Homo sapiens: one gene and its partners. The protein of the gene in region 3 purifies or fractionates together with the protein of the main gene of each other region. This does not show direct contact. Each region holds a gene or a part of one and is shown on either strand. Other genes may lie near its edges. The genes, in order: BMX, SCLT1 and KIZ.

Evidence for each region.
Region 1: the proteins of KIZ (region 3) and BMX purify together in Homo sapiens (affinity purification with mass spectrometry; 2 studies listed by BioGRID and IntAct, with this or other methods). This does not show direct contact.
Region 2: the proteins of KIZ (region 3) and SCLT1 purify together in Homo sapiens (co-immunoprecipitation; 4 studies listed by BioGRID and IntAct, with this or other methods). This does not show direct contact.

The regions. Positions count from the first base shown.
Region 1 is NC_000023.11:15,498,829-15,502,580, forward strand, and holds the start of BMX (cytoplasmic tyrosine-protein kinase BMX), read left to right. Parts: upstream 1-1,978; 5' UTR 1,979-2,112; intron 2,113-3,752. UniProt on the Homo sapiens protein: Non-receptor tyrosine kinase that plays central but diverse modulatory roles in various signaling processes involved in the regulation of actin reorganization, cell migration, cell proliferation and survival, cell adhesion, and apoptosis.
Region 2 is NC_000004.12:129,091,616-129,095,367, forward strand, and holds the start of SCLT1 (sodium channel and clathrin linker 1), read right to left. Parts: upstream 1,925-3,752; 5' UTR 1,489-1,924; coding exon 1,455-1,488; intron 1-1,454. UniProt on the Homo sapiens protein: Adapter protein that links SCN10A to clathrin. Regulates SCN10A channel activity, possibly by promoting channel internalization.
Region 3 is NC_000020.11:21,240,977-21,244,728, reverse strand, and holds part of KIZ (centrosomal protein kizuna), read right to left. Parts: intron 485-3,752; coding exon 441-484; exon of another isoform or gene 1-440. UniProt on the Homo sapiens protein: Centrosomal protein required for establishing a robust mitotic centrosome architecture that can endure the forces that converge on the centrosomes during spindle formation. Required for stabilizing the expanded pericentriolar material around the centriole.

The DNA of each region.
Region 1 (3,752 bases), on a different chromosome or scaffold from region 3:
AGTCATATTATCGTAATAGCAGATTGCCAAAAGTTAGGATGTAACTAAACTCATGGAAAATACAGAGCCAAAGAAACAGGAGAAGTAGCAGAGGAAGTGAATGAATAGAATAAAGTAAATAAATCTGTGACATTTTGCCTTAGAGGAAACCACTCCTCCCAGCTGTCCTTGGGTGTTTTATGCCCCCAAGAAGGGATGGAAATCCCAAGAGATTGTGCCCAGGTGTTTCCACAGTTATACCGACTGTATTAGTCCATTTTCATACTGCTATGAAGAAATACTCAAGACTGGGTAATTTATAAAGGAAAAGAGGTTTAATGGACTCACAGTTCCATATGACTGGGGAGGCCTCACAATCATGGTGGAAGGTGAAAGAGGAACAAAGGCATGTCTTACCTGGTGGCAAGCAAGAGTGCGTGTGCAGGGGAACTGCCCTTTATAAAACCATCAGATCTGGTGAGACTTATTCACTGTCATGAGGACAGCACGGTAAAAACATCCACTCCCGTGATTCAATTACCTCCCACTAGGTCCCTCCCACAACATGTGGGGATTATGGGAACTACAATTCAAGATGAGATTTGGGTGAGGACACAGCCAAACCATATCACCAACTCCTCCTTCCCCTACCCTAAGTTTACTTTTTATTCTAGAATCGAACTTTTGCCATATTACCATATATAAGTTGTGAAGTAAATACAAATCGCCATGTGGAAAAGGAAATTAACTAGCAGAGTGTAGAATTAATTTATTTAGCCAGGTTGTTGTGCCACTCTTGCCCTGCTTCACCCTTAATTTTTTGAATGACTACCTACTATATTCCTAAAGAATGGAGAGCTATTTGGAATCCATCAGTGACTTTAATTTGCTATTAGAATGTAAGTTACACTCTTTTGAATTCTTCTGAAGGACTCCTTTCCCTTCCCAAAATTCTAGTTTCCAAACTGAAATATTAAAAAATATTTCTGCAAGTTATTTTTCCCATACTCTACTGTAATTAAACCACTATTTGTGGTTCCCCCCCCCCCCACACAGACACATAAGCCCCTTGAAGATGTGGGCTGCCTCTCTTCTGTTTGCTCTTGTGTCTCCAACCCCTAACGGAATGCTCAGCACATGGCAGGTTCTCAAATAAGACTTGACTGAACGAATTAATAGAAATGATGCTAATTCCATGTACACTCAAAAGAATACCTCTTTGAAAGCCAGTAGCTTCACTCTCTTCTGCCAACCCAAGACTTCTTCACATCATAGATACTTACAAATAAGTTACAGTAAGCAACAATTTATAAGTAAACACAGTGTGTCAATGCATGCCAAAAGGATGATTACTTTTCTTGGCTATCCATAGCAGGACATAAAATATGTCCTTAGATTTATTACAGATGGCCAGCCGGTATGCACCAGAGAAAATAGTGGAATGGGGGAAGCCAAAAGTTGTGAGTCTGTCATAATGATGTCAAGTGACACACTTTTTCATTGCGATCTAGGTGTACCATACCTTAGCAAAAACAATCTATTTTCCATTTCTGGATTTCTTAATAACTTAAACTATATAAATAAGCTCCTTTTCCATCATATGAACTGTTCTTACATATTCTCTGGCCTTCCTTTGTCCAAATGTTGAGTTGAAGTTTTCATTGCATATTCTCTGTGCACTTTGCATTACCTAATGGTTTCCTGGCTCATGTGAGAGAAGTCAGCGTCAGCAGTCGGGTTTTGCCGAGATATTTTCTTGTCCTTTCCAGCATAGAGCTCTACAAACAAAGGCAGGGTTATCACATGTACCCGAGAGCTGCCTGGGAAAAGTGGGAGCTATAGTTATCAAAATTGGAAACTTTATGAAGTATGCTTTTGTCTCCGTTTTTGTTGCGTTCAATCAGATCAACAAGTGTTGGCTAAGTGTTGAGCGTGGTTTCCTGTGGGATTGTGTAAGGCTCTGTAGGACAATAAACGTGTTGGGGGCACTGAGTAATGTAGCCATTTCTGACCCGGCAGCCAGGAAAATGTGAAACAATTTGCTTCTGGAAACAGGACAGCCGGGGCCGTGTTCCTGCAACAGCAGACCAAGCACCGCGGCGGACCCAGGCAAGCACGGAACAAGCTGAGACGGTGCGTTTAAGCGGCAGGTGGCTACTCAGTGTCGCATACTATGCGGAAAATAGGTTTGGTTCCCGGTGTTGTGGGGCCTGAAGTTACAAACTTTGGGAAGCTCACTTTAAGAAAAATAGTACAACATTTTTAATATGAAATTGCCAGGGCTTTCTCTGGGACTTTAGATGGGACCAGGTAATTTGGAGGCCAACGGCTGAAACTGCTATAATTTCACTGTAAATTCACTCCTTGCTCAAAATCTCAGTTAGGGAAGCTCTCAGGTTGTTTATGTATCACCACCAGTTCTACCTAGCTTTGTGTGTATTCTCTGCTAATTTTCTCCATCCGCTTCTTTAGGTATTGCCTTTCCATAGCCTTTCATATTGGCCTCATAACTGCTTCCAAAGAGACATAGAAATGTTCCTTATACCTTCTTTAACTGTGTTTTTATGATGTTACTTTAGCTACAAATATTTGCTCTTAGGTTCCTGAGGTCTCCCTAAATCAAGTGCTTTGTGTATTTTAGATGGAGATAGACAGGTGGGAGGGAGGTGAACCATGCAGTTGTACTCATATCCATATAATTTTGAAAGATTTTGTGGGCCACAATGATTTCATTGGATTTGAAAAGGAGTGCAACTTTGTGGTCCATGTAAGTGCTTCTCAAGCTTTCCTGTGCACGTGGATCACCTGGGGATCTTGCTAAAATGAAGATTTGGCTGCGCGAGGTCTCGGGTGGGAACTGAGAGTCTGCATGTCTAATGATCGCCCGGATGATGCAAGTGCACGGACCACACTTTGAGTCACATCCAAGTATTTATTTGTAGGAAATATGGTGGCACAAATACACAGTCAATAAGGGTATGGTTCAACCTCATTTTATGGTAACTCGTCTCAGGATGGAAAGTCTGCGACAAACCTACTATGTATGGACTGGTGTTTGTTGACATGGCAATACATGAGGAGGTCTTCCTGCCTCCCATTTTCTCCTATACCCAGGAGCTGGGGACAGAGGGATGAGAAGTAAAATTTTATCATTAAGGATCATTATTATTTCACTGTCTTTAGTTTTTTAACTTTTTATGGTCCTTTTTAAAACTTTGCCTATGGAGTGATCAGAAGGGACATAAGCTTTTAGAATATCTACTAGGGTGTTGGGCATTAGGCTGCCATTTTCTCTTGACTACTTGTAACCCTTCGAAGTGGTTATTGTTTCACTGCCTTTACAGATGGGGAAGCTGAGGTTTAGCTGGGTTAAGTAACATGACAGATTCCATAGAGACAGAGCAGGGATTCGAACCCAGCTCGGTGCTTTCACTTGCACTAACCGGCATCATGAAAGCAGTGTTACATGTTTAATTCAGCATGAGATGCTAGCTCATGGATTTATTACTTTTTGCTTTTCTCCTAAGGAAGTTGCCCAGAGAGAGTGCCCTAAGCAGAGGAGAGGGAGCAGAAAGAAAGAGGTTACTGAAAAGAAGAAAAGACTTAGAAAAGCTCTATGGGGCACTGAAGATTAATCTCACACCTAAAGCAAAACTTAGCTCCAAAAAGACTAGCATTAAGATTCTTGCCTTCTTTGTGAGAAAATGATCTTCCCAAAGTGTCTGGTTTTTATACACTTATTTTGGATCAATTAAGGTATGATGCTCCAAGAT
Region 2 (3,752 bases), on a different chromosome or scaffold from region 3:
GAAATAATGCTAATGTTATTGTGTCATTATAGTGTCATTAATTATTTTAGATAACATATACCATGCACTTAATATGTGCCAGACACTATGCTCAATGCTTTTTCATCATCTCATTTAAGTCTCACAACTTCAAGAGGATTCTTGTGTTCTTATACTCATTATATAAATGAGAAAACTGAGGTGCAGAAAAGCTAGGAAACTTGCTCGAGGTCACAGACCTGGAAAGAGGTAGGCTGTGAGCCCAGACAGACTAAATCCAGAGGCTGACTGAGTTCTTAACCACTGGTCTATAATGCTACCAAAACGGAACTTACTACCTTTTTCCTAACTTCCCCGTTGCTCAAGCAAAAACTAAGTTGCTCTCTACCTCTTTCTCTCAAATCCCCTGATCTCCAGTCTCCCTGTGCCCAACTTAGTTTACTTCTTACCTGAATGATGACAGTAGACAACTAACTGCACTCTGCTATAATGCATATTCCCCGTAAAAATCAGACCGGGCCTTCTAAACTACAATTTGATCATGCCACTCTCAACTGAATTCCTATAACCCATGCAATGGTCCATACTCCTTAGCACAGAGAAGACAGGGCCCTTCACCATCCAGCCCCTTTCTACGCCTTCAACTGCACTTGCCATTTCCCTATATAAATATTCCAATTCAATTTACATCAATATTACACTCAAACCAGCCGTATTGCAAGTCTTTAACAAAGCATATTCCTAATCCCCTCAGTGTCACAAATATTGTTCTATTTGGGATGCCTAGAGTTTTTCATATAGTAAATTCATATTTGTACTGCACGTTTCAGCCCAATAGCACCTTCCTTGAACATATTTTAATAATAATCGTGTAATAGTTAATATTTGTTTAACACAATGTATCAGATACTATTCTAAATCCTTTACATATTTTAATATTCATTTAATCTTTCCAACAACCCTATGAGACTGTGGCAAAAGAGCCAGCAGTTGCTGTCACTTCAATATATTTTGGAATACATTTCCCTCCCCAAATTAAATTCTTGGAGGTAAAAACTGTCCTGTTTATCTTTGCAGCAGCTGTTCTTCCATAGTGTCTGGTACATAATAGAAACAGGAGTTCAATAAACATCTTTTTAATAAATGGCCAGAGAGCTGTGCCCCTAGATTTTAAATGCACACTTGGAAACTCCTGCTGGCCATTAGCCTTCTAATCTTCAGAGCACGAGAGGAGCATAACAAACATGTTTAGCGTCTAGTAGAATTCTGTGTAAGCTACAAGTACTACCACACGGTTCTGCTTAAATATACACACATCCTCACGTATAACATCAAGGTTTTTTTTTTCCTGCAACTAACTTCTTTAACTCTTTACCAATTTAAATGTACCCAACCAGCATTCAAAAAAGATTTGTCGGTCAACGACGACGATATTAAACATTGTATATGAAGTCTCAAAAAAACATGGAGCTTACTTTGCTCTCTCAGAAAGTCGATTTCTGCAGCCATTTCGATACAATTTTAGTTTAGAGCTTTCACCACCTTTACCTTCCTCTGAAAGACAGAGAGCTTGCTGTGCGGGAAAACAAAACTAAGCCAACGCTCGGTTGGTTGTCAAGCGCTCCAGCGGTGCAATCTGCATCCTACTCACGCGGCATCTACAGCCCCGCCACGCTTCTTTCCCCCGCGCCCCAGACGAGTCCCTGGCCCTGGTGAGAGACTGAAGATTGCTGGGGACTCCACGTTCAACCGAATCCCACGCTGGTGGGAAGAGGACGCGGTCGATACAGGCGTCCCGCGGGTCACTCTGGGTCTCGTCGGGCCACCTAGGAGAGTGCCGCGGGAGCTTGACGGCAGCCTGAGAGCGGCGTTCTACGCGGAGCGGCGGGGGTTGGAGAGGACAACGCCAAGACGGCTGGGAAGCCCCAGGCCAGCAGCGGAAGTCCACTCGGCCCGCCCTGCGACTTTGAAACCGGTGCCCCGGACCACTCCTTGGAGACGGTGGCGCCTCTTGCGTCATCACGCGGGCGTTGGAGCTTACGCCATCGCGCGTCCTAGAGTCCTAGCACGCTATTGGCTGGCTGTCAAGCAATGGGAGGAGTCGTGAGAACCTGGATGACAGCGGGCTGAGCCACCGGCTTGGCGCGGCGGCCAAACTGGTGGGACAGTGTCTCCAGGTAGTGAGGCCCAACCTCTTTAAAACAAACAAACAAACAAACAAAAAACCAAAATGCAAACGTGAGTAGAGAATGAAATACACAGTTTAAATGCCCTCACTATCTTTGGGTTACTAATATACTAAGCCTTTCTGGACTAAGTAAAAGATGCAGGTTCCTGCGGCTAGGGATAGAAGCCAGACTGGCGTCTTCAGAATCTCCCACCAAGGCTGTACCTCTGGAGGAGTTCTAGGTTTGGATTTGGTCATCTCAAGAAGGTAAGTACCTTCTCGGTCTTTGTGGGTCTTTAGACAAAGGAGACAACTGTTGTTTAAATATTTAACTGTGTAGTAATAAAGCGTGTAGTTAGAAGTACTCAAAAGATCTTGCAAATTCAGCAGCTACTTCTTCAAAGATAAGCTTGTTTCCTCAAATATAAGGAAAGATAAAAGGTACTTTTTTTTGCAAAAAACAAAACGGTAAAACTTACATTTGTGGATAGATTACAATTTTCATTTTTGAAAATTAATTTTGTCTGGACTTAAAACGTATTTTTTTAAAAAAAATCATTTAACATTAGAGGAAATCTCACCACTAGCAACAAAAATGTTAACTTGAAGCTAGCCACTAGTTTTGTGCTTTTAATAAATTGTATTTTTATGGACTGAAGTAAAGTTTCACTAAACAGGCATGTCATAGATGCAGCTTGATTTGGCTTTCTGTTTAACGGCTTAAGAGTTTTGTTGTCCCGTACTCATAATGTCATATAAACAAAGTAACCTTAGCGATATGTGTTAAGAAATTTTAAAAATGTATTCAAATATATGCAGTTAGGCATCTGAAGGCCTTACTCAATACTCACTGTTAATAGAATGAGATGGTCCCTTCCTCTAAAGACTAGCTGTTAAATATGGATGTGTAGCTTAATAATCATTGAAAAGGTCTAATCCAGCTTTGAGTTGGTGATAATTGAACTTGTTCTGATTTTTAGTAGCTATAACGTTTACACAAAAACTTTTTGTATAAACGTTATAGCTAAGGGAAAATTGAGTGTGCAAGGTCCAACTCGTTTTTGAAGTTCAGTATATGACTCTTTCTTCATAAACATCTCACTGACTCTCCAAGGACTTGCTTGTAACTTCTCCCACATTTGAACCTTGTATATTGTCGTATTTCTACTTGGCATCAAATAAATAATTATAGACTTAACTCTACGCTTACACCCAAACTGGATGGAAGCAAATACCTTCTGGCTATAACTGATGAGTGGTATTTACATAAAGTGAATATCTCAGGTGAAAACTTTTATGTCTGCACTCGAATTTTTTAGCTTACATGATCATAATTATGATCATGATAGTTTTTTGTTTTTGCGTTTGTGTTTGTGGTTACAAGATTTTAGTAGTTGAATTTTAATGGAGTATTTTCAACATAAGTTTCATCATTAGGAAACAAAATTGTGATGATTTCACTTATCCTTAAAGGATCCCCTCTCATGTTCCTCCTTTTCACATCTCCTGAGTTCTTTATCCACTTCTCCCAAGGTAGGTGCCACCTTAGTACTTACTTCATGCTCCTTCCTGCATTATCTGTCATGTTTTGTAGTTTGTCTCCAGG
Region 3 (3,752 bases):
GTGGCCAGGTGGAGGAGCTGGGAGTTCCCAGGAGCTGGGAGGAACTGGGTATGAGGAAACCAGTTAGAGTTACTCCAAGAGCCTGTCCGGTCATGAGCAATGGGTGCTTCTGAGGATGAGGAGAGAGGCAAGAAACATTTCATTGGTAAAATACAGGGTGCTGATAATTAATTAGACATGGAGGCCAGGATCCCCTGCAAATTCATACTTGCAAATTACAATGCTCTGCCCCTGTGGTCCATGGCACCCGTGTGGTCCTGTCTGTGAAGAACTGAGCCTCCAGAAGCCCTCAGGTTCCACCCCAGGGACAGCTGCAATGGCAGTCCCTGTGAGCATGCCCGCTTCAGGACTCACATGAGGGTGCAAACAACAAATGCATGTCACAGAGTTTTTTGGTTAAAACAGAAAAAGAAAATCTAGTGTCCGATTATCTCTCTCACCATTAGATTTTAAATTGATCACGGGTTTCTTTTTGTTTTCATGCCTGCAAAATAAAGAAACAGTCTAAGTTCTGAAAAAGAAAAGACAATGAGACTAATATTTTCATAATGAACGCATTAGAGAAGAAGCACTTTGATTCACTGGAGGCCAGAACTTTACACTTACTTCCCAGAGTTTAAAAGTAAAGGGAAAATATCGGGATGCAGCGTGGCCTTGTCGGGAGGGTCGCTACTCAACAGCATTGCTCCCGTCCTGCGTGTGTCCCCTCGGCAGGTCTGCATGGCCCACCCCGCCCTGCTGAGCTGTGCCTGTGTGGGGCCACGTGTTCTTGGGGGAGGATGATCGCATGTTCCCCTGAGGCAGGGGACCGGTTTCCCTCAACAGTCTTCTGGAAGACAGTGATGCATCAAACTTCAGTGCTTTCAGGCAAGCTAAAAATGAAACACTTGCAGTAGGGAATTCAAGATGTTGGTAAGGAAGTTAAAATACTTAGTCAAACCAGTGGCAGCAATACTAACAGTTAAGAAAGGAGTTCAAAACAAACACCTGGTAGAGGGCCCTGCAAGTGTCACATAAATGCTAGTGTTCGTGGCGTCCAGGACCGTCTCGACTGAGGCCAATATGACAAGAAAACTGGCTCCACGGGATATGATTTCTCTGTGTGCCTTTTCAGGAGCTTTTGCAATTTTAATGAATTTAAAAGTCTCCTCAGGGAGTGTCACTCGAATGTTTTATGATGCTGAGATTCTTTCAGAATTGCCTGAATGGTCACAGGAGATGTTGGGAGAGAAACCATTCTTGGTGCATGGCTCGACACTTTGCCCTACCCCACGCACCACCACCGCCCTTCTCACAGCCAGGGCCTTGTTCTTCTGGACACAGGAAACCCTGCAAATATATCTTTTCCTTCCCTTTGGGCCAAGTGTGGTTGACTTTTGGCTTAAAAATCTACGTTTTGCTATAATTTACTTTTTTTTTTCAGAAAAACATGCTCCACTAAGGTATCATTTTCTAGGCTACCTTTCAGTGTTCCCTTTAAATTTAGTGCCTGTTTCTTTAATTGCCATGACTGAGTAGTGCTCACAGCCATTTCTCCATGAAGCATGGAAGACCCCTACGAGCATCTGGAAAGGCCAGCAGCTGACTGACAGTCCTGGAGCTGCCAGGATTGTGGGGACCTGTCAGTGAGGTGAGCCTGCAAGAACCCATTTTACAGAAAGTGACACACACATCACACACACACTAAATGCAACTGCAGGGATGTCTATTATTTCCCCACCTCCCCCTACCTGAGGACACTGGGCTAGGTGCTGCAGGGGAGGGTGGATTATAAAAATGCTAGGAGGGGTGGAAAGAGGCTAATTTGCCAGCCGCGGTCCATACAAGAAGAGCCACAGGGGGAGCAGGAGAGATCTCTGCCAGCTGGGTGGATGGAGAGCACTGTGGCAGGTGATTGGGGGAGCTGCAGGACCACAGAGGAAGCCCGGCACCTCCAAAGGCAGAGGCCTTCACAGGACAGGACTGGGGAACAAGGTGTGGCGGGGTGGGGCAGCAGGGAGCCCCTGACACAGGAGAAAGGACACAGTGGCAGGTGAGCTCAGCTCCTCCCGTCTCAGCAAATGGCACCCCTGACCCACTAGTCTCCCCAAGCCCCTCTCCAGTCTCCACTCCTCTTTCCTTCACATCCAGTCTGGCCCTCGGTCCTGCCAATTCCACCCCCACCCCTCTCGACCCCCCTGCAATACTTCCTGCAGTCCTCACCAGTTCCCTGGGCACTGCCAGTACACTGGTCAACAAAACTATCAGCTCTTGCTTCTCTCTCTGCAACAACCTCCTAACTGGTGACACACACTCATCTTGTCCCCTACTATCCATTTTCCACTAGGCAATGAGAGTGAGCTTTCTGAAATGCAAATCTGGTCGCTCCACTTCCTCGCTTAAAATTCTTCAATGCCTTTCCATTGATTTCTGCACAAAGACCTAAATCCCAAGCAGTGCCTCCAAGGTGGATCCCCCAGGAGTGTCGTGCTGTCCTGCTGGAGCCTTCCCACTTCTGACTCCCTATCTTTACCACTGAGTCCTCGTCAAGTTGCTGTTTCACATCCACTTGTGCAGCCAACTGACGTGCCAGTCCTCCCCCTCTGAACTGCAAGATCCATGCGGGTAGTGACCACACCTGTTTCAGCTCACCTGGGTAAGGCGGTGCACAGCACTTAACAGGTGCTTAATGAGTATGTTCACTTGGAATGAACAAGCGAACTTCACTAAGCATAGGGCCCTGCTTAAAGGCATTTGATCAATATTCAATTATATAATACTTGATTTACATATTTCTATTCAATATTGCACTTCAGAATCAAGTTTCTTTGGCTTCCCTGCTGGCAAAGAAAAAAAAATAAAAACCCAGAAAAGCTGAAGCAGAAAAAAAAAGGAAAAAGTCATGCACAAGGCTGTAAACACAGACACATGAGAACATCTATGCGAGTGTGTGTTAGTCGTCACTTAACTCATCAAAAGCAATCAGCCAGCAATGCTGAGTCCCACCACGGAGGTGACCCACTGAGCATTTCAGGGACCTCACTTCCGCATGTGGCACTCTAGGAAAAAATGATTTCCTGAAGCCATGTCTCTATGAGGCCACTTGAACTTGCTTTTTCTGTTTGTCCTGTGGTTACACAGTGTAGCTTTGAGAACATTTAAGCCACAGGGAGCCAGTAAACATCCCAGTGAAATGTGAATTAATTGTGTAATGCAGGGAGCCAGTAAACATCCTAGTGAAATGTGAATTAATTGTGTAATCGTTCTTAATTGTCTGTGTGATTGGTTTTCTCACAGGAAACATGTTTCAGAGCTAAATGTGCGTGGTGCGTGGCCTACCCACGGAGAAGGGCAGAGCGTACTTTCCAGTGTTTTGTTCTCCACTCTCGTATCTAAGGAGCAATTATTTTTCCTTTTGGGAAAATCTCTGAAAGTAAATGTGACCCTGCAATTCATAGTTGATTTTTTATTATACAGAATTCTTGGGGCCAACATTTTTTTCTCTAGGTCATACCTAATATGTAAAGCTAAGGCAAGGCTGATGGAGAAGCCTGAGAACTTTCTATTGTGTGCTGGATAGAGCCAACTACTTTGGCTACTAGAGTAGATGAAAGAAAAACAAAACTGCATTTCAGAAAGTAAAAGAAATCAAAGAGTTAAGGTTGTAGGCCATGAGATATGGTCACCATGTGGTCTTATGTGCTCAGAATCTAACTGTGTAATGTTTGCTGAGAGTGTAGAAGTAATGTTTCCATCTTGTAAGGCAGACGTTG